2 separate regions of the Homo sapiens genome follow, and region 2 is linked to region 1. The links come from fine-mapping of genetic effects on plasma protein levels. A gene starts in region 1. The other region holds a variant in brackets. All regions are shown on one strand. Distances are from middle to middle. Region 1 holds the start of EIF5 (eukaryotic translation initiation factor 5). Region 2 overlaps EIF5 (eukaryotic translation initiation factor 5).

Evidence for each region. PIP is the chance, under the fine-mapping model, that this variant and not a neighbour inherited with it causes the effect. The UK Biobank Pharma Proteomics Project read protein levels with antibody pairs (Olink). The fine-mapping took linkage between variants from a reference panel, not from the people measured, so its PIPs are less certain.
Region 2: its variant is fine-mapped to the plasma level of the EIF5 protein (UK Biobank, PIP above 0.99).

Annotation. Positions count from the first base shown.
Region 1 is chr14:103,327,655-103,339,309 of GRCh38, forward strand. It overlaps EIF5 (eukaryotic translation initiation factor 5), which reads left to right and starts at 6,583. Exons shown (of 12, transcript NM_001969.5): 1 at 6,583-6,606; 2 at 6,735-6,943; 3 at 7,999-8,278; 4 at 8,382-8,463; 5 at 9,023-9,195; 6 at 9,462-9,573; 7 at 10,673-10,818; 8 at 11,081-11,239; 9 at 11,518-11,655. The coding sequence starts at 8,207. EIF5-DT (EIF5 divergent transcript) reads right to left here and starts at 7,006. Exons shown (of 1, transcript NR_158216.2): 1 at 4,018-7,006. SNORA28 (small nucleolar RNA, H/ACA box 28) reads left to right here and starts at 10,195; the gene lies at 10,195-10,320. RefSeq lists an enhancer at 6,039-6,158 and silencers at 6,479-6,898, 7,039-7,088, 7,199-7,438.
Region 2 is chr14:103,340,946-103,352,600 of GRCh38, forward strand. EIF5 (eukaryotic translation initiation factor 5) reads left to right here. Exons shown (of 12, transcript NM_001969.5): 12 at 18-4,080. The coding sequence ends at 107. Among named protein-coding and RNA genes, the nearest start is that of SNORA28, 8.9 kb to the left of the region's middle. The variant T/C (reference allele first, on the strand shown) is at 5,157.

The sequences.
Region 1 (11,655 bases):
AGGTGTGAGCCACAATGCCCGGCCTAAAATCTTTCATATTTTTCAATGCTGTCTTACAAAAGAAGTCCCCACTCTGGGGTCCATTTGCATCTCCAGTGTCTGGCGCCCCCCGGGCAGGATATGCAGTGGCTAATGAAAATCTGTAGCATAAAGGAAAACGCATCCTCACAGGTCTGAAGACAGCACACCTGAGTGGATCTTCTGGGATAGTGTTAGCTATCAGGGTTATGACTTGGATCCTGCCTCCCCTCATGTGAAACTTTCAAAAGCACTGGAGTAAAGGAAATCCAGCTGAGGGAAGAGAGGCAAATCCCTGGGACCCAGATGCACCACACAGGACTATTAGTCCCTAGTCAGGGGGAAGAGCTCTGAAGCTGGGAATCAGGACACCTGACCCCCCAACTGGAGGCAAATCATCTCTCTGAGTCTCGGCTTCCTCGTCCATAAAATGAAGGAATAAAATGTATACTTGCCACCTCCCAAGGTGTGAGGAGGACAGTGAGAGAGCATGGGTGACGAGGCTTTGTCAGCACGGCAAGGCCATTGGCACCTTCCTAATTCTAACAGCCATGATCAGTCTAATGCCACTCCCATCACGTCGCCATTAGACCCGGGGACCACTTCTCCAACACACCCATTGGGGCAGAGATTTTGTTCTTCTTATCCACAGACTATCTAAATTAGGGCAGCTCGAATATCTCAAAAGAAAGCTGCTGAGACTATGCTGACGGGAAGAAGGGTATTTGGGTTCCAACATCATGGGCGTCCCCCAGTTTTAAGGCACAGGACAGTCCTGGGATCAGCAGCTCCTGCAACCCCTGAGAATTTGTCACTGGGGTGCTGTGTGTGTCTTCAATGTGACCAAGACAACACCAATCCAATATTGTAGGGCCTGCTCTGATCCATCCACATTTCTCTGTCATCTGCTACACGTAGGACGCTGCGCAGGCAGAATCAATGCCATTTTGTGTTTTTTTCTTTTTCCAGGAATGGGACAATGCAGGATGGCTGCTGGGTGGGATCACAGCTCCACACTTCGGAGGAGGAAGACTTTGTGTCAGTCTCCAGTGATCCCTCACCTGGACCCCTATCTTTCCTCAAACACCTCTGCTTCCTGCCTCTGTCCCTTTTGGAACTAAAGGCCTGTTCCTCAGCCAAAGTCCAGAATCCTTTCTTCTCAAGCATGAGTCCCCTGCCCTCCAGTTGCTTGGCCCAGTAAGGAAGTCAGAGAAGGAAACAGGCAACTGCAATCAAGTGACATGAATGCCAGTGGTGTGGCGTAGGTGCAGCCTAGCCATGGGATGGGCAGGTCACGAAGGCAGGGAGACATGCTGTTCAGAGCATCAGAGATTTCACGAAGGGCAAGCTTCAGTGGGGTGTCCAGCAAGCAGATATTTGCCTCTACTTGTTTACATGTGACCTCCTGGGCAGGGTCTGTGATGTAGGCGGGCCTGCACCCTCACTGCCTAGCACAGAATTATGTATTGATAGGGATGCACTAGATTACCATGGTTTAGGACACCAGCCCTCACGTCAGCCGATGCCTCTGTACTCACCAGATAACCTTCAGTTCCCTTCCAGCAGCTTCAAATGTCTGCTCTATGAACACCCCTGTGACTGGCTGGTGCTAGAAGAAAAATTATGCATATACCCTGTAGCTTGTCCTGAAGTAGGGGGGACAAGAACTTCAGTTAACAGTGTGCAGCTTTAAAAGTTGAGAGGTTGGGCACGGTGGCTCACACCTGTAATCCCAGCACTTTGGGAGGCCGAGATGGGCGGATCACCTGAGGCTGGGAGTTCGAGACCAGCATGACCAACATGGAGAAACCCCGTCTCTTACTAAAAATACAAAACTAGCCGGGCATGGTAGCAGGTGCCTGTAATCCCAGCTACTGAGGAGGCTGAGGCAGGCGAATCACTTGAACCCAGGAGGCAGAGGTTGCAAGAGCTGAGATCGTGCCATTGCATTCCAGCCTGGCAACGGAGCGAGACTCCATCTCAAAAAAAAAAGAAAAAAAAAAAGTTGAGAGGTGGGTGTCACAGAGGAGGACCACTGCCCCTCACAGTGTACAATATCTGAGTCCATTTGAGAGCTCACAGCTCAGAAACACAAGGCTCTCAGTCCATGCAGAGTTGATCTTGGTGGGGGGTGGGAGGGAGGGGACACTCATTCACATTCAACAGAGTCACAGCCAATGTGTAAACAACCAGAAGGCCAGTTTACCAATCTACCTTTCCAGCAGCTATTCCTGTCATCAGGGCATGCACTGAGGTGTGCAATTCATGCACTCATTCAGCAAGGTTTTGACAAGCACCAAGTGTCCATTAGTGCACGGACTGTGAGCACCTGACTGGGGAAAATAATGCAGCCAAATGAGGTGGAGATCCAGAAACGGGAAGTGGAATTGTGCAATGAGCTTGGCGTCACACAAGCTGGAGTTCAAACGCTGTCCATCATTTATTAGGGAGGCGACTTTGGGGAAAATTGCTTAACCTTCCTGAGTCTCTTTCCTCACCTGTAAAATGGGTATAACAACATCTCCTTACATGATTATTAAAGAATGGGATTACATATGTAAAATGCCTAGTTTTGTTTGTTTTTGTATTTATCTGGAGAGGCCATGCCACATAATTTTTAAGGGAACAGGCTTTGGGATCAGACAGAGCTGTCTTTAAATCCTAGCTCTGCCACTTACTAGGTACATGATTTGGGTAAGTTGCTTAATTTTTTTCCACTAAGCCTTGGTTCGCTCATTTGTAAAATGGAAATACGAATTCCTCATAGGGCCTGGGAAATAAGATAATGTATTCCAAGAACTTAGAAAACTCCTAGGATATGATAAGCATTTAACAAATGGTATGATTAAGAGTAATTTTTAGGTGCCAATATCCAGAATAAACAAGGAACTCAAACAACTCAGTGACAAAAAATAAATAAATCTGATTTTTAAATAGACAAACGATCTCAATAGATATTTCTCCAAGAAAGACATACAAGTGGCCAACACATGTATGAAAAAATGCTCAATGTCACTAATCAACAGGGAAACGCAAATCAAAACCACAAAGACAAAAAATAGCAAATGCTGGCAAGGGTGCAGAGAAAAGGGAACTCTGATGCACTGTGGGTGGGAAGGTAAATTAGTACAGCCATTAGGGAAAACAGCATGGAGGTTTCTCAAAAAACTAAAAATAGATCTTCCATATGATCCAGCAATCCCACTACTAGGTATTTATCCAAAGGAAATCAAATCAATATTATCAAAGAGATATCTGCACCCCCATGTTTATTGCAGCGCCAGTCACAATAGCAAAAGATATGGAATCAACTTAAGCGTCCACCAACAAATGAATGGACAGGCTGGTTGCAGTGGCTCATGCCTGTAATCCCAGCACTTCAGGATGCCGAGGTGGGAGGACTGCTTGAGGCCAGGAGTTCGAGACCAGCCTAGGCAACATAGTGAGCCCCCCCCCCACCCCTCCCGCGCCATCTTATTATTTAAAAAAAAAAAAAAAGGATAAAGAAAATGTGTTATAGGCTGGGCGTGGTGGCTCACGCCTGTACTCCCAGGACTTTGGGAGGCCAAGGCAGGTGGATCACACAGGAGTTCAAGACAGACCAGCCTGTCCAATACAGTGAAACCCTGTCTCTACTAAAAAAAAAAAAAAAAAATTAGCCGGGCTTGATGGCACGCACCTGTTGTCCCAGCCACTTGGGAGGCTGAGGCAGGAGAATCGCCTGAACCTGGGAGCCGGAGGTTGCAGTGAACTGAGATCAGACCACTTGCACTCCAGCCTGGGTGATACAGTGAGACTCCGTCTCAAAAAAAAAAAGTTTTACATATACTGGAACACTATTCAGTCATAAAAAAATAATGAAATCCTTTTATCTGAAGCAACATGGCTGAGACTGGAGGACAGTATCATATTAAGTGAAATAAGTCAGGCACAGAAAGATAAATACCACATATTCTCATTCATATGTGGGAGCTAAAAAAAAATTCGAGTTCATGGAAGTAGAGACTTGAATTGTGGTTTATTAGAAGCTGGGAAGGCTAGTGGGAGGAGAGGAGAGGGAGAGGTTGATACAAAATTGCAGCTCAATAAGTTCTAGTGCTCTGTAGTATTTCAAGGTAAATATACTTAACAACAATCTATTGTATATTTTCAAAAAGCTAGAAGAGAGAATTCTGAATGTTCCCAACACAAAGAAATGATAAACATCTGAGGTGATGGATATGCTGATTACTGTGCTTTGATCATTACACGTTGTATACATGTACTGAAATATCACTTTGTATCCCACAAATGTGTTATTATGTATTAACTAAAAATAAAAGGGAGAAAAAGAACACAAAAGTATTTTTTTAAGTTGTCCATGGTTGCATACAAATGAGTGGTACACATATTAAAAAGCAGTTAAAATTATTACAAACTTCAACGAAATTAAAAATTGTGCCACTAAACATACAAAAAAGCTAATTACTTCGTGTTTCATTAAAACTTTTCTGAAAAGGCAGGCCTCTCACCTCAGACTAGTTTCATGCCTATACTTTCCAACAGAGTTTCTAAAATAACATCATTTTTGTGCTGCCAAGCAAAAAGTCAGATCTGTTTCAATACTGCTAAGTCATGCTCCACAGTGAAACAGCAGCAGCATGTCTGGGATCCCCTTTTCTAGTTTGTCTGATGGGAACCCTGGTACTCACAAGGCACTGTGCACTTGGCTTAACAACTATACACCAAGGTACACACTGCGGGATTATAAAAGTCCCTGCCCTAAAGGACACAAATCACCTCTCAATTCTGGATTGTGCCTTTATTTCTTCCTACCAACACTGCCAATTTTTAAGTTGTTTATAAAGCTTTTAGTTATGGAAGCACGATCTTGGATTTTGATATAAAAATCAACATAGCTGCCAATTCTAACCTCAGTGCAAATGCAACTGGTCCAAAACAAAGGGCAGCCCCTTATCTACCTCATCCTGTCCTCAGCAACATTTCTCTTTTCCAGATCGGGAAACCTGCACGGCCGCTCAGGACTTCTCGATGACTGCACCTTAGAGACCAGAGTGCAGGTTAGCGGGGCTCTCGCTCCATCAGTCAAGTGAGGTCTTCAAACTTCAGGGTGAACTATGGATGTGTTTTTAAGACTCAAGTTTTCACAAAAAAAATCCAAGTTTCAGAAAGAATGGGAGAGTTTCAACAGAACTAAAATATGAGAGCCTCTCTCTAAATAATAAAAATTTTCTTTTTTTTTTTTTTTGGAGACAGTCTCGCTCTGTTGTCCAGGCTGGAGTGCAGTGGTGTGATCTCGGCTCACTGTAACCTGTGCCTCCCGGGTTCAAGGATTCTCCTGCCTCAGCCTCCCGAGTAGCTGGGATTACAAGCGAGCCACCACGCCCAGCTAATTTTTTGTATTTTTAGTAGAGACAGGGTTCCACCATATTGGCCAGGCTGGTCTCAAATTCCCGACCTCAGGTGATCCGCCCACCTCAGCCTCCCAAAGTGCTGGGATTACAGACGTGAGCCACCGCGACCGGCCTAAATAATAGTAATTTTCAACGGAATACATTGGAATCTCATTATAAATGCCTGCTCTGGGCTACGATTTGCTTATCAAAGAATTCACAAGTCATAAACTAGAGGGGGTGGACTCGACGTGATGCCCACTAGGAGAAAGGTGACAAGAGAAGCACGAAGGATAGCGCTTTTCAACCCTGGGAGAGCAGGGAGGCCTTCACCAGAAGGTGGGAACCCACCACGAAGCGCCTTCAGGAGGCCCCAGGATTCCAAACCAATTAAGGGCCTCCTCTTCCGAAAACGGGAGGCGACGCGCTGAGCTAAGCGCGCAGGCTGGGTTGCGGGCCGACACCGAGGCGGCGCGGCCTCGCGACCGCCCTGGGCGGTCACTGGCGAGTCACGGACTCGTTCCGCCAGCGGCCAATCCACCCCGAGTCCGAAACAGAAGACGTCCCTGGGATGAAAGACCCAGGCCTGGGGCTTAAGGTGGAAAAACAACTCATTCCTCGAGGCCCGGAGTCGGGCGTCCCGGGAGAACGGGAAAGGGAGATGAGCGCCCGCTGCGGGGAGAACGCGGTCGGGTTCCTCTCCCCGAAGGTGGCAGCCGCAAAAACACGGCCTCGAAAGCAGTTTCGAGGACGATGGCTCCTGCGTCCCGGGAGTCGCCATGACGCCGCGGCCTGTCCCAGACCCGGCGAGGGAGGGGACCAACCACCATCTCCCCCTCAAGGCCCAAACCGACAAAGAACGGCCCCCGGTACCCCGGCCCCGCCACCAGGGCCACTCCGGGTCTCGCGAGACCCAAGGGCTGCGCCGCGAAGACCTCTGGGAAAGGCGGGGGGAGGGGAGAGGAAGGAAGCGAGACCGGGGCTGGAGGCGGGCCGAGGCCGCGAGTTGAGCCTCAGGAAGCAGAAGGGGCGCGGAAAGATGCGATTGACGTCGCAAGCGAACCAATGACGAGCGAGCTGTGGCAGGCCTCCAGCCAATGGGCAGTGAGGCCTGACGCGGGGGGCGGACGCTGGGGCCGAGGGTAGCTTGAGCGCGGCGGCGGCGTTGTTCAGTCAGAGCGAGAACATTCCAGAGGTGAGTCCGGTGAAGGGGCGGCCCCCTGCCCGGTGCTTCCCGCCCCCTCGACCCCTCGGGCCGCTGGCTGGCGGGGAAGGTGCACTCCCCGACCGCCCACGGCTCACGGCGCCGTCTCTCCGCGCCAGGTCGCCCAGCTCCGGCGCTGACGGGTGTGGACCGCGGACGTCGCTGGGACAGCCCCTCCCCGCTGCTCGGCGGCGGCACCTGGCCCGGCCGCTCCTCGCTGCGCTTCGCCTCCGCCTCCTCGGACTCGGACTCGGGTTTATATCGCGCCTCACTTCATCCCAGTCCCGGGCGAGCAGCGTTGGGTTTATGTCTTTATTTGACGAAAACGGTGAGTCGCGGGCGCGGCGGGCCAGGAGATGGCGGCCGCACAAGATGGCGGCGGCCGCCGCGTGACCCCGCCGCGGCGTGTGGCGCAGTTTGGGCGGACGGCGGGCGGGCGCGGGCCCGGGCGCCGGCCGCCCCCTCCCCGCGCGCTCCCCGGCCCGGCCTCGCCCCCTCCCCGGCATGGCGGGAGCGCGTCGCGCGTGCCCGCCGCTCGGGCTGACTCAGGCTTCAGCTGCTGCATTTGTGAGTCATCGCGCGCTCTGGGGCGGGGGCGGCCCGATCCCGGCACCCCTCGGCCGTGTGTCGCTTCCCGGCTGTGCACCCTCCGGGGCCGCCGGCTCTCGGGGGACGCGCTGGGGATGGGGCCAGACGCCCCGGTCGCGCGCCCCCCTCCTTCGCGGAGCTGCCCGGTTCGCCAGCCCCCGCGGAAACGCCTCGGAGCGCGGTAGCCATGGGGACCAGGGCGAAGGTTAACCGAGTATTTGAATAGCGAGGAAAAGGGAGGCCGGGGCGAGCCTGGCGTTCGCTCGCGCTCTCTTGCTTAATGGCAAATTGTGGGCGAGCGCTGCGTTTAAGGAAGTGCTGCTTTGAAGTAAGCCATGGTTGCCGAAGCAACGATTAGTTGTAGAGAACAGTTCCCTAGGTTGCCCTTAAAAATGAAGACGAACGGGGGTGTGCCTGAGAAGTTTGCTTATCCAGGCGGGGTGGGCGGCGGAGAGGGCTCGGGTTCGTTCTTCAGCACTTCCAGGATGGCCGCAGAGGCAAACCTGCTGATTGCCCTCGGTCTGATGGAATCTCACGGCGGCTGAGGCAGCACAGCTTGTGTTTTCTTGTCAGGCATTTCCCTACCAGTCACAGCTTAGTCGAAATGGAGGCCTTTTTATGTTCCCGCAGATTGTACTGTGTTACATGAGAATGGCTGTTTGCATGTGATCTCAGATGCTTTTTAAGGTGGAGTTAAGCAGAAGCATAACTAGGATGTAAAAAGGAGGCGTTTCCATCCAGCGATGATGTTAAACCTGGGGGGATTTTTGTGTGTTCTTTCCCTTTTTCTTTCAGAGCTGTTGCGCAGCCATTGGTACCTGTATTGGGGAAACATAGCATACAAGCAAGAAGCTTACAGCCTCAGTGGCGAAAATTTTTTCATGTCAGAGACCGAGAACTCTTGCAGTCGTTTATGTCATCCCTTCTTCTCCAGACAGAAGATACCAAAAAGTTGCAATCAAAGATCTCTTCATCTTATTGATAAAGCCACTAATAAGCCAAAATGTCTGTCAATGTCAACCGCAGCGTGTCAGACCAGTTCTATCGCTACAAGATGCCCCGTCTGATTGCCAAGGTAATAAACTGCTCTTCAATTTAGTTGATAGCTCTTTTTGTAGAATTTTGAAGTTTGCATTTGTCAGGGGAAACTGCACAACTAAAATTCTTATTTCCTTTAGGTTGAGGGCAAAGGCAATGGAATCAAGACAGTTATAGTCAACATGGTTGACGTTGCAAAGGCGCTTAATCGGCCTCCAACGTGTAAGTAAAGCTTGGAAAAGTCCACAGGGCATATTATGGATAGAGTCTTCAAAGTCTTTGAGCTGCAAAACTTGTTCTAATTGTATGCTAGCTAATTACCTTACAAGTTAAGTGAGGAACCGTGGTTTATTGGTTGCCATGAGTTTACAAAACTACCAGGGGAACGCATTTAAAGAGTGGATGGCTGGGCGCGTTGGCTCACACCTGTAACCCCCAGCACTTTGGAAGGCTGAGGCAAGCGGATCGCGAGGTCAGGAGTTCTAGACCAGCCTAGCCAACATAGTGAAATCCTGAGTCTACTACTAATACAAAAATTAGCCAGGCGTGGTGGCATGCGCTTGTAGTCCCAGCTACTTGGGAGGCTGAAGGGGGAGAATCGCTTGAACCCCGGAAACGGAGGTTGCAGTGAGCTGAGACCACGCCGTTGCACTCCAGCCTGGGTGACAGAGTGAGACTCTTGTCTCAAAAAAAAAAAAAAAGTGGTGTTCGTACAAATGTGAGTGAGTAGCCAGAGATCTAGTTAACTGTAACGATCCAAACTCCTTTTTCATTCAAATAGATCCCACCAAATATTTTGGTTGTGAGCTGGGAGCACAGACCCAGTTTGATGTTAAGAATGACCGTTACATTGTCAATGGATCTCATGAGGCGAATAAGCTGCAAGACATGTTGGATGGATTCATTAAAAAATTTGTTCTCTGTCCTGAATGTGAGAATCCTGAAACAGATTTGGTAAGTGCTTTTGTGGTTGTCGAAAGAAAAAGCCATATACCTGCTTCTGTGATACCGCTAAGTCACCTTCCTGAGAAGGCAGAGCAAATGTAATTTTAAATCAAACACAAAACTCCAGTTTTCGAGATATTTCCATTCTTTTTTTTAAAGTAGGTCACTGTGTGAAAAAAGTTTTCTTTGCATGTGAAGCTGTCTGTGGTTTAGATGTCCTCTGATTAGATATTTTCATGTTATATTATGGATAACATTTGTTATTTTTTTGGCAGCATGTCAATCCAAAGAAGCAAACAATAGGTAATTCTTGTAAAGCCTGTGGCTATCGAGGCATGCTTGACACACATCATAAACTCTGCACATTCATTCTCAAAAACCCACCTGGTGAGTCTTCCATGATGAACTCCTAAGATCCTAAGATAAGTTACTAACTGTTGGGAACAAAATAGAAGGTTTTTTTGTAATAGGAATGTAAGGGAGACTGGGCACGGTGGCTCATGCTTGTATTCCCCGCATTTTGGGAGGCCAGGGCGGGCACATCACTTGAGGCCAGGAGTTCAAGACCAGCCTGGCCAACATAGTGAAACCCGTCTACTAAAAACACAAAAACTAGCTTAGCATGGTGGTGTGCTCCTGTAATCCCAGCTACTCCGGTAGCTGAGGCATGAGCGTCGCTTGAACCTTGGAGGCAGAGGTTGCACTGAGCTGAGATCGTGCCACTGCACTCCAGCTTGGGCAACAGCGACTCTGTCTCAAAAAAACAATATAAGGAACCTTTTAGTCCTTGTACTATATTTTATCAAATCTAAGACATCTTTCAAAAGTGTATTGTTAATTACCATTAAAGGTGAAAAATAGGCTGCCAATTAAACTGTGCCATATCAATTAAGACATTATCTGAGGGTAGATGAAGTAATGACTAAAATTCTGCTGGAAACCCAGCAAAGTTTCTTTTACTGGCATTGTTTGGTAAAGAGGGCCCCCTTCATTAAACTTGAATATTGCAAGCAACACTCTGTGGCAGATGATCAAAACTGTCTGACACAATTTGAGCTTGCTATAGCAAGAAAGTCTAACCTATTCCGGTGTTCTCTCTCCCATGAGACAAGCCGTTATATAGACTTAAACAGTGTTCCACCTGTTGGCTAAAGCTGGGTTGAGTTAATGACTTTGTTCATGAGGGATGACAGGGATCCTTAGGGCCACCTCTCCCTAGTGGAGGCATCATCACTTCATCTTACTCTTTCTTAGCAGTTACAATACCCCTAATATTTTGTGTCACTCCATTCTTAGACTAACATTCTTACGTATGAAATACATGATGAATTTGATCTGTGAAGCCTCTTAGGTAGCATTGTGTGTGCTGTGTGGTTTTTCTGAGGGGATCCATAGGAAAATAAGGGCAGGGTTTTAAACGTTAATGATGGGCAATGAGGTAATGTAAGTTATGGGGTTAAATTTTTATTTCCCTTTTTTTCTGTAGAGAATAGTGACAGTGGTACAGGAAAGAAAGAAAAAGAAAAGAAAAACAGAAAGGGCAAAGACAAGGAAAATGGCTCCGTATCCAGCAGTGAGACACCACCACCACCACCACCACCAAATGAAATTAATCCTCCTCCACATACAATGGTGAGTGCAGGGTTGATGGCCTAGTGGGCACTAAAGTTGTGTAAAGTATATGGCATTTGGTTGAGGTGGGTGGAAATGTTGAAACTAGCCTTCAGTGTGTAATACACTAATATTGTGGATTCCAAGTACTGTTTGTTGTTTGAATTAAGGTGAACCCAATTTTGGATGGAGATGGACTTGATGCCATTAACTTGGCAAAATCTGAACCTTTTTGTTGTTGTTTTTAAGGCCTTTGATCAAGTAGCTCTGTTTTCATAAACAGGAAGAAGAGGAGGATGATGACTGGGGAGAAGATACAACTGAGGAAGCTCAAAGGCGTCGAATGGATGAAATCAGTGACCATGCAAAAGTTCTGACACTCAGTGATGATTTGGAAAGAACAATTGAGGAGAGGGTCAATATCCTCTTTGATTTTGTTAAGGTAAAACATTTGCTTGGTCTGTAAATCAGCTTCAACCCAGCCTTGTTTGTGCCTTTAGATATATGATACTTTAGCAGTGTAATTAGGATTACTCTAATGCACGACTTTTTAGAACTCTTGTTCATTTAAATATTTTTTGCGCGTGATTCCAGGCACTATGTGTCACAACTGCCAAATTAGGCAGGAAAAATATGTTCATCAGAGCAGGGACTGGCTGGTGTCTTGAGCCTGGCAAAGTGTGCCTCCATTGCACTGAATTGTTTTCCTTTTCTTTGCAGAAAAAGAAAGAAGAGGGTGTTATTGATTCATCTGACAAAGAAATCGTTGCTGAAGCAGAAAGACTGGATGTAAAAGCCATGGGCCCTCTTGTTCTAACTGAAGTTCTTTTTAATGAGAAGATTAGAGAACAGATTAAG
Region 2 (11,655 bases), 13 kb after region 1:
ATCATTCCTCTTAACAGGTGGTGTATTCGAAGGCTGCCAGTGTACCGAAAGTTGAGACTGTAAAGTCAGACAACAAGGATGACGACATCGATATTGATGCCATTTAAAGGGATGGATGCAACCTAGCTTAACAGTATAATGCTGCAAATTTTCCTCCATTATCAGCCAGAAGTGCAACATGTATGTGCAAAAGCTAAAATGGCTTAACATCATGCTACACTTTACACTAAAAATCTATTACTGTGAGTGGTCTGTTATTAAGCCCAATGAGACATCTAGGGAGTCCATACACATCAGTGAGCAGATGTAGTTTGCTTATTTATAGCATGTTTCTTTTTGAAAAACTAGTGGTGGACACATTTGGATCACATTTATACAGTTATAAAAATAAAGGTTTGATTTTGGTCGTTCTTCAGATGTTTGGCTCTGAATGACTTAAGCTGAAGTAACTGGCTCCTTACTTTAAATGTTCTGCCATCATTTCACCTGATGAGCATTCTTGGAGCCTGCCAGATATTGTTAGGTCCTGGGGCTGCAAAGAGGTCCTCAACAGGATGTAAAGCAAACTTAATTGTAATTAATTTATTCAGCCCATTAAGAAAGTACTAAAGTTTTATCTCTGTAGTTCCTCAAATTGGCATCTGGTAATGTACATTGTGAGGTAGACTGATAATGAAATGACAGTGTAACATCTTAACCAAGAAGTAAATATGACCTCAGTGTCCTATAAATAATGTAAGAGCAGGATTTGAAACTTGGAGAGCTGTTTTCTCATTTCATGTACACTTGCCCCAAATTGTCTTTGAAGTCGTGTGCATTGCACGTTGGATGAGCCAGGGAAATTATTACATTAACAAGCATTTTGTGTGTACGTAGTAGTTACTTTGTACTGAGAGAACTTGCTTTGGGGTGCAATTAATAAACTGATTTTATTTGGGAGAAACAAGGAAGGGTGCACTTAACTAGCAACCTAAGCATGATTTTTCAGCTTTTGCCCTTAGGGTTTAAATTACAATTCCAAAATGTTAGACATACTGTATTTTTTCGTTCAGTGTGGCTTTAATTTTCCCCTCTTGCAGTTTGTTCTGTAATGCCTTTTACATTTGGACACATAGTTTATGCTTTTTAGATTTTGGTTGCTTTCTTGCCAAAATAAGTGTTAACTGTGTTTCAAACTTGATTTTCTTTCCTTTTTCTTTTTTTTTTCTTCCAGAATGTCTTATTTAAAAAGAAAGCTAAAAGCATACTTCTAAGTCAGAGCCTCTATTTTGGTGTAAGACTTGGGATATTTTTTACTTCACATTGAATATAGCCAGGCACCCAAGAAGTCTGATGGCCACCTGAGTGCAGGTGACAAGGACCTGACAGAGCCCATGCAGGGCTTTAGATTTGGACACACAAGAGTTGATAACTTCCTCATGAACTCCTTGCCTGATCTAAACTCATATTATGGGTTCTGACTGTTTGAGTAATCATCTTCAAGGTTAAACCTCTTGGCAGTTACCCTTTTCACAAAGTGCACAGTGGGAATCGAGAATCGATAGGGTTAATTTTGGAGCAGTGGCTTATACCATTCACCTCTGTTTTTTTGTGATTATTTCACAGATAATGAGACCTTAATAACAAATAGGCGTAAAAAAATTTTCACATTGAAATGATAGAAACATTTGATGTAATAAAACTTGGTTGGCTTGATATTTTAAGGAATTGAAACCTAGCAATCTTATTGGAGAGACAAGAATTGGTCTCCAGCTGCCTTTGATCAAGATTCGGGTGCAAGTGGAGCAGGAGCCATATACCTGGAGGGAATGTGCTTTGTCACACCAAAGAGGATTTTTTTTTCTTCAAACTTGTATGTTGCCTAGGTTTCAAATTCTTTGCCGCAAGGCTGATCTGCTTTCATTAACTGGAATTCTGTAGGAGATACTGGTGACCTAAGCTAAGTTGCACTCAGCATACTCAGTGTCAAGCTAATGAGGTTCTATTATAAAGGTTCTACTTTTAATCTGAGGGAAAACATGTTCAGGGCTTCTAGAACACTAAAAAATTTGGCTTAAACCAGTGTTCAGTCTGGTGCCAAACTTCGAATGGAATACAAATTCACATAATCTGAACTTTGTTCACAGGTTATCCTAATAGAGTAATTCTTCACTTTGCTCTATTGAACTGTCTTAAGGATTTGTTTAAACAGCTAAGTTACTTGATTAAAATAATGATAAAATTGTATTTTGTCTTTGCTTTAATATTAAAGTTAACAAGTTTTCATTTTATAATGAGATCAAAGCATTGGAATCTGCCCTGTTTTGTAGCCGTTGCTTTGGATTTGTGTTGGATGTATCCTGCAGTTACACTTGCCAGCCCCACTCACAAAAGTTGTTCATTTCATTGGGTCACTGGCTTTATTTGCTAGTCTTGTCTGTGAACTGAGCATCTGCCTCAGTTTTATTACTTGAAATCTTGGCAGGTGCTTAATAGGGAACATACATACAGCTATGTAACTGTGAATAATTGTATATATCTCTAGTTAAGAATGAGGGAATGGGGAGGTTTGCTTTCTAAACAAGTGCATTCTGAAATTGACTTAAAAATTTTTAGTGTGGGTCCTAAAGTTTAGAGATGGGCAAGGAGGTCTCTAATCCACCGCTTCCCGCTTGAGAAGGGAGGGGTATCAAAATTGAGCCCCAAGCTGTTTGTTCCAGTGTACCAAGCACTGACTTTATGCCTTTGGCCTGGAGATGGCAGAAGTGAAAGCTGGCCATCTGCAAAAAGCAGATAAGTGAGTTTGAACCTTTTGCATTTTGTTAGCTCAGTCAGTCCTCATCGTGGTCCTGAGGCATAGGTACTGTTGTACCAAGGTCACTTATCTAACAAAATAACCCTTCATGTATTTTAAATTTATTTGACAAGTCTGCAGACAATCCTTATCTAACCAGCTATTTTCTTAATTGCTACAGCTTGACCTACCAGTATTCCGGAGTAACCAGCAAATGCAAAGTTGACCTTGTTCCTGCATCATCTTTTTGATGGTTCAAATTTCAGCCTCCCTGACTACTACAAAGCCAGAGCAGTCTTAGTACCAGAAACAGTGTTGCACTTTCGTTGCATGTGCTGTGTGACCCCAAGGGGACAGGGAGTCACTTTGGTCATCTCTGTCCCCAGTACAGATCTTGATTCATAGTGACATTCCATAAGTGGGGTGACAGCAAATGACTTGCAGGTAGTCTCATTGTAGGTTTGTGCACCAGAGTGACCCTGTGAGCCTTTGTTAATAGGTTGGGAGCTCAGGGTGTTTATGTCCACCTGTCTGGTCTAGCCAAACAGTTTTTTTCTGGGAATCAAATTTCTGTGGTTTTTATGGCCAGAAATTTTAAGGACTTGTGTGTGCTGGGATATGAGAATAGAAGCTACAGAGTTCTTTTCTTGGGACCTAGACTGGGAGGTGCAATGTCAGGACCTCCAGGTGAATGGTAGGATCTGAGTTGACCCTGCAGTTCGGTTATGCAGTCAATTATTTCTTTTTAAGAGGAGGAGGATTCACTTGGGTGTTGGGATCAAATTTGGATTCTGTCCCAGGCCTTACTGTAAAACTAGGGGATTGCCTTTCCATATCTGCTGGGGGTGGAGACCCTTATGTGCAGCACTCAATCCCACTGGAAGCCTAATGCTGCAGTCAGAAGCAATGCCTGGCTGGGGCAGTAGGGGAAATTCCACCCAATTTTGCTATGAGCCTAAAACCTCTTTAAAAACGGTCAGTTAACTAAAAAATAAAAATCAAGTCTTTAGGAGAGTAGAAAACACAATTAACTAAAAAGCAGGGACATCTGAAAGAGACGTATTAAGTTAACATTTTTAAAAATCCAAATGAAAGTAAATGGAATAAATGTATCAGGTAAAGGACAAGTTGTAAGCTTGGATTTTTAGGTCTAGCAATACACTGTTTACAAGAGCATCACCTAAAATGTGACAAAAGATGTTGAAAGGATGAAAAAAGGTATAGTAGACATACACTAACCAAAAATGTAGCTCTTTGAATCTCAGAAAAAAGTAGATTTTAATAAAGTGTGAAAGTTGTCAATCAAAGCGGAGTCACTTGTGTTCAAGAAACAAAAAAACAACCCGAACAAATAGAGTAGGGTTTGCAGTCTTGCGATGGTGAAGGGTCTCATGCTGGTATGCCCAATAACGAAATTATCACAAAAGATTGCAAAAACCACAGCCTTGCACAAAAAGCATCACAGCCTTATGCAAAAAATACTTCAAGGACATCTACCCAGCAACAGCCTGTCCAGCTGTGGACTTGCATCGCCCTTGTTATGGATCTTTGTAGCCACAGGTGGTAATCTCAAAACAGTTATGTAATCTTCATTTATCCTTTAAAAACCATTCTCGGCCACGCGTGGTGGCTCACGCCTGTAATAACAGCACTTTGGGAGGCCGAGGAGGGTGGATCACCTGAGGTTGGGAGTTTGAGACCAGCCTGACCAATGTGGCGAAACCTCATCTCTACTAAAAATACAAAAACTTAGCCAGGTGGGGTGGTGCATGCCTGTAATCCCAGCTACTCGGCTGAGGCAGGAGAATCGCTTGAACCTGGGAGGTGGATGTTGCAGTGAGCCGAGATCGTGCTACTGTGCTCCAGCCTGGGCGACAGAGTGAGACTCCATCTCAAAAAAAAAAAAAAAATTCTCTCCCTTTACCTCCCTAAAGTACACACACAGCTCACAATGACGTGTATTCCCATTGCAATGCCCTATTCCTGAATACATATCTTTCTTTTAGAGAGCTCGTCTCTCTCATTTAATTGACATAAATGGGGTCAGAAATGGGACCTAAAGAAAGATGACTATCAGAAAAAAATACTCTTTTTTGGCCAGTATGCATGAGCCCTTTGCGCTGTAGGCTTCCATGGCTCAAATTTTTGTCCCTGGTGAGTCTTCTCTCAGGCCAGCCCTCCCTGTTTTTGGTGGAGGCTTTGTTTTTCTTTTCTTTTTTCTTTTTTTCCTTTTTTTTTTTTTTGAGACGGAGTCTTGCTCTGTAGCCCAGGCTGGAGTGCAGTGGCGCAATCCCGGCTCACTGCAAGCTCCGTCTCCTGGATTCACCCCGTTCTCCTGCCTCAGCCTCCAGAGTAGCTGGGACGACAGGCGCACGCTGCCACA[T/C]CCGGCTAATTTTTTGTATTTTTAGTAGACACGGGGTTTCACCATGTTAGCCAGGATGGTCTCGATCTCCTGACCTCGTGATCTGCCCGCCTTGGCCTCCCAAAGTGGTGGGATTACAGGCGTGAGCCACTGTGCCTGGCCTATTTTTTTTTCTTTTCTTTTTTTTTTTTTTTTGGTAGAGGCTTTTTGATATTCAAGATCAGGTTTGGTTATAAGGCCACCTTAATAAAGAACCTTACATCCCTCCTGAGATGATAAAAGACTGACTTTTCTGGTAAGTCCTTTCTGGTATAAAGACAGAGGTCTCTAGCTTGAGTATTCTGGTTTCTATTGAATTCACATTCTATCTGTGAGGCATGTCATTTCTGGTGAATTCACTTTTGGTCTGAGCGTGTAATTTGATCTGCATGCCTGGGTTAAAATTTTGTGAACACTCATCTCTTGGTGTCCTGTGATTTGGTTTCACTCGTTTCCCTGGGTTTTTTTCTAAACACCTTCCACGTTTTAAATAGTGGGCTCAGGATGTCTAATTAAAAGCCACTAGGGCAGTTGCCACCATCTAAAACACCAATCCAAACTCCTGACATTCTCTCACAGGATAAAAAAGATATTCTGGTCGGGCACAGTGGCTCACGCCTGTAATCCCAACACTTTGGGAGGCTGAGGTAGGAGGATCACTTGAGACCAGGAGTTTGAGACCAGCCTGGGCAACAAAGTGATACCCTGTCTCTACAAAAAAAACTGAAAAATTTAGCCAGGCACAGTGGCCTGCACCTGTAGTCCCAGCTACTCAAGAGGCTAAGGTAGGAGGATCCCTTGAGCCCAAGAGTTCAAGGTTGCAGAGAGCTATGATCGTACCACCGCAGTCCAGCCTGGGTGTCAGAGCAAGACCCTGTCTCAAAAAAAGAAATTTTACAGAAGTACAACTCCTAACAGAATAATGCTGGCCTGGCGCTTTGAAATGATTGCAAAAAAACTATGGAACAGACAAAATTGAACTCAATAATGGACTCTAAGTAGACTTAGCTGACAGCCACTCCCTTCGAACCTCCCTCGTTGTTCACAGGTGGCTAGAAGGTTTTGACACTGGCTCCTAGTCCCCAATCACTCCCTGCAGTGTGGGACAAGACTGGCAGCCAGGACAGATCCACCCTGGTATCAAGGGACAATCAAGACCCAGCCACAGGATGACTGACCAGCGATGCTTTCAGAGAGAGATGCTGACCAGAGGCGGAAACGTGAAGGCTGTCAGAATGAGAATGGAGTCATTTGTATTTTAAAAGGCAAACACCAAACAAAAAAAAACCCTGAGAAATAGAGCCAGGTGAGGCTGTGAAGAGAGCATTCTCATGCTTGTTTGTCCTATCACGACTGTCAACGATCACAAAAGACTGCAAAAACCACAACCTGCACAAAGGCCGTCACAACCTTCCACAAATAATACTTCTACAAGGACATCTACCCAGCAACTGCCTGTCCAACCTTGGACCGGCGTCGGCCTTGTTATTGACCTTCATGGCCAAGGCTGATTATCTCAAAACAATTATGTAATCCTCCTCACTTTTCCTTTAAAAGCTATTCTCTCCCTTTACCTTCCTAAAGTACACACATAGCTCACTATGACATGCATATTCCCATTGCAATGCCCTGTTCGCAGATACCTTTTTCTTTGAGAGAGCCTCTCTCTGTTTATTTTGTTGACAAACCAAGAAAAGTCATTAGGAATAAAGAGGATCAGCACAATGTGATGAACAATTCAACACATCAGAAATAAAAGTTCTGACTGGGCACGGTGGCTCACGCCTGTAATCTAAGCACTTTGGGAGGCCAAGGCGGGTGGGTCACCTGAGGTCAGGAGTTCGAGACCAGCCTGGCCACTACTAAAAAATACAAAAATTAGCCAGGCGTGGAGGTGAGTGCCTGTAATCCCAGCTACTCAGTAGGCTGAGGCAGGAGAATTGCTTGAACCCCAGGAAGCAGAGGTTGCAGTAAGCTGAGATCGCACCACTGCACTCCGGCCAGGGCGACAGAGCAAGACTCTGTCTCAAAAAAAAAAAAAAAGAAATAACAGTTCTATCACTGAATGCACCGATGAAATACTCTCAAAATATATAAAGCAAAAGTTTACAAAAGAGCCGTAGTGAAATACCACTACACACCCACCAGAACAGCTGAAATTTGAAACTTGACAACACCAAATAGATGGTGAGGAAGTGGGGCCACTGGAACTCTTACATACTGTGGGTTGGTATGTAATATGATACCAACACTTTAGGAAAAGTTCTAACAATTTCTTACAAAAACTGAACATACACCTGCCTTCTAAACCCACAATTCCACTCCTAGAGAACTCCACACTTAATAGAAATGAGGCCAGGCGCTGTGGCTCACGCCTCTAATCTCAGCACTTTGGGAGGCTGAGGGAGGTGGATCACGAGGTCAATAGATCCAGACCATCCTGGCCAACATGGTGAAACCCTGTCGCTACTAAAAATACAAAAATTAGCTGGGCATGTGGCACACGCCTGTAGTCCCAGCTACTCGAGAGGCTGCGGCAGGTGAATCACTTGAACCCAGGAGGCGGAGCTTGCAGTGAGCTGAGGTCGTGCCACTGCACTCCAGCCTGGTGAAAGATCGAGACTTTGATGCAAGAAATACATAAATAAATAAATATGAAAGCAAGCGTTCCTGAAAACACTTATGAGAATGGCTATTGCAGCTTTTTTTCATAATAATCCCAAACTGTAAACATCACAAGGACCTATTAACAGGAGAATGGATAAACAAACTGTACCATATGCTCAAAATTGGATATTAACAATAAAAAGGAATGAATTACTAATGTGCACAACAAAAGTTATGAATCTCAAAAATGTACTAAATGAAAGAAGCCTTAACAAAGAAGAATACGTATGTACAGTTCCATTTATATGAAGTTCTAAAACAGGCTACACTGATCTGTGGTGAAGAAATCAAGACAGTGATTGCTTCTGTGGATGGTGTGGGGTGGGGATTGATGGGAAAGGGCACAGGGGAACCTTCCACGGTGACAGCAATGTTTTATATCTTGATAGAAGTTTGGGTTACATAGGTGTATGGGTATATGCATTTGTCCCAAATTTGTTCATTTCATTGCATGTAAATTTTACCTTAGGCCGGGCACGGTGGCTTATGTCTGTAATCCCGCACTTTGGGAGGCCCAGGTGGCTGGATCACCTGAGGTCAGGAGTTCGAGACCAGCCTGGCCAACATGGTGAAATCCTGTCTGTACTAAAAATACAAACATTAGCTAGGTGTGGTGGCAGGCATCTGTAATCCCAGCTACTCGGGAGGCTGAGGCAGGAGAATCGCTTGAACCCAGGAGACAGAGGTTACAGTGAGCCGAGATCGGCCATTGCACTCCAGTCTGGGCGACAAGAGCAAAACTCTGTCTCAAAAAATAAAACAAAGTACAAAAAACTAGCAGTATGTGGTGGCACATGTCTGTAGTCATAGCTACTCAGGAGGCTGAGATGGGGAACTCGCTTAAGCCTGGGAAGTTGAGGCTACAGTGAACCATGATCATGCCACTGCACTTGAGCCTGGGGGACAGAGTAAGACCCTGTCTCAAAAAAAAAATAGATAAAATAGATATACAAGATATATATTGTATATACAGATATTTCAATTAAAATATATAAAATATGAAATTATGTATTTCATTACATGTCTAAGATTCTCAGAGTGGCCATGGCAACCAGTGTCTCTCAAGATGGCAGCTGTGGTGTCAGCATGGGTCCCAGAATGGGTGGAGCAGAGCGCCCAGTGGACCCTCAAGGGAGCTGGAACATCAGTGAGAAATCACCTTTGTTGTAGGAAGTCACTGAGACAGGGACAGTGTGGTCAGCAGAGCCTCCTTGACTGAGGTGTGCCCGACGCTGAGCGTGTCCTTTTCTAAGTTCTCCTTTCAGTCTACGTCAGTCTGCATCAGTCTATGTCAGTCCATGTCAGTCTATGTCAGTCTACGTCAGTCCACGTCAGTCTATGTCAGTCCACGTCAATCTACATCAGTCTATGTCAGTCTATGTCAGTGCATTTCAGTCTACATCAGTCCATGTCAGTCTACAACAGTCTACGTCAGTCCACGTCAGTCTACGTCAGTCTACATCAGTCCATGTCAGTCTACGTCAGTCCATGTCAGTCTACGTCAGTCTACGCCAGTCTGTCAGTCTATGTCAGTCTATGTTAGTCTATGTCAGTCCATGTCAGTCTATGCCAGTCTATGTTAGTCTATGTCAGTCTATGTCAGTAAGTAAAAGGGATTTTTGCTGAAACATTTCTTTGTCATGCCTGTGGCTAGCCGCCCAGATACCCTCTACAGAAAAGAGTCAATGTTATCAGAAATAGTTTATGCATATTCAAGCAAAATCATACTTTTTCTCCTTTTTTATAACACAAACGATTGCATGTTTTACATCCTGTTCTGAACCCTGTTTCTTTCGCTTTATATTTTGGAAATTATTCCATAGTAGTACATGTATATTTTCCTAATCAGTTTTTATAGCAAAATAATATTCCATTGCTAGAAGGTAGCAATATTTATTTATTTAACCAGTGCCCTATTGATGGACCTTTGAGAAGTTTCCAGTCTTTTGCTATTACAAACAATACTGGGTTAACCTTTAGTATACTGGAAAAAAGAATTATATAATAATTTACCTCGGGTCCAAAGGACCCTTTTAATTTTATTTATATTTTAAGTAGCCTCATAATAATTTACAGAAGAATAAAGGGATCATAACAAACAACCTTATTAGAAATTATAATAAGAATGTAAGTGTAGGAAACCCAAATTTCAATCCCAAATTTTCCTGTTTTGAAAGTATATATACCAAGAAAGGGCTGGGCACGGTGGCTCACACCTGTATCCCAGCACTTTGGAGGCCGAGGTGGGTGGATCCCTTGAGGTCAGGAGTTCGAGGCCAGCCTGGGCAACATGGCAAAACCCCATCTCTACAAATAAAACAAAACAAAACAAAACAAAAAAAATAGCTGGGCATGATGGTGCATTCCTGTAGTCCCAGATACTTGGGGGGCTGAGATGAGAGGATCACTTGAGCTGAAGAGGCACAGGTTCTCAGCTGAGATCGAGCCACTGCACTCCAGCCTGGGTGACAGAATGAAACGCTGTCTTAAAAAAAAGAAAGAGGTGGCTGGGTGCAGTGGCTCACGCCTGTAATCCCAGGACTTTGGGAGGCTGAGGCGGGCGGATCATCTGAGGTCAGGAGTTAGAGACCAGCCTGGCCAACGTGGTGAAACCCTGCCTCTACTAAAAATACAAAAATTAGCCGGGTGTGGTGGCGGGCGCCTATAATCCCAGCTACTTGGGAGGCTGAGGCAGGAGAATCGCTTGAACCCGGGAGGCAGTTTGTGGTGAGCCGAGATTGTGCCATTGCATTCCACCCTGGGTGACAAGAGTGAAATTCTGTCAAAAAGAAAGAAAGGAAAGAAAGAAGGAAAGAAGGAAGGAAGGAGGGAAGGAAGTAAGGAAGGAAGGGAGGGAGGGAGGGAAGAAAAGAGAAGAGGAAAGAAAAAAAAGAAAAGAGAAAAGAAAGAGAAAGAAAAAGAAAGAAAAAAAGAAAGAAAGAAAAAGAAAAAAAAGAAAGAGGCCAGGAGTGGTGGCTCACACCTATAATCCCAGCACTTTGGGAGGCCAAGGCAGGTGGATCATCTGAGGTCAGGAGTTTGAGACCAGCCTGGCCAACACAGTGAAACCCCATCTCTACTAAAAATAAAAATTAGCCGGGTGTGGTGGTGGGCACCTGTAATCCCAGCTACTTGGGAGGCTGAGGCAGGAGAATTGCTTGAACCCGGGAGGCGGAGGTTGCAGTGAGTCAAGATCGCGCCACTGCACTGTAGCCTAGGCAACAAGAGCAAAACTCTGTCTCAAAAAAGAAAGTATATATACCAAGAATGGACTGAATACAATGACTCACATCTGTAATCCCAGCACTTTGGGAGGACAAGGTGGAAGGATTGCTTGATCCCAGGAGTTCAAGACCAGCCCAGGCAACATAGCAAGACCCTGTCTCTGTTAAAAAAAAAAAAAAAAAAAAAAAAGACTAGGCAATGTCCTTTGCTTTCCACTTACTGCTCATGCCCTGTCTTGTATGTTGAATCTAGAACATATCCATCTTGTAAAAACTGCTTCCAGATTTCAACTACATCTTTAGTAGGTTTTAGCTTATCATGACTTCTCACTCTTCTCTTTGAATCTGTGAAACCCAATACTTTTGAAAACTTTGACACTCATAATTTTGTTGAGAGGATGGCCATCTTCTTTGTTCCATAATTGTGAAATATTGTCATGGTTAGATTTATAAACCCCAATTAAATGGTCAATCCAATGAATTGTTTTCATTTCTTCATCATCTATTTCCTTCCAATCACCCCCGTGTATCCAACTTTATCATCCACTTACTGAATGTATCAAGTAAAGTATGTACACAAACATCGTAAA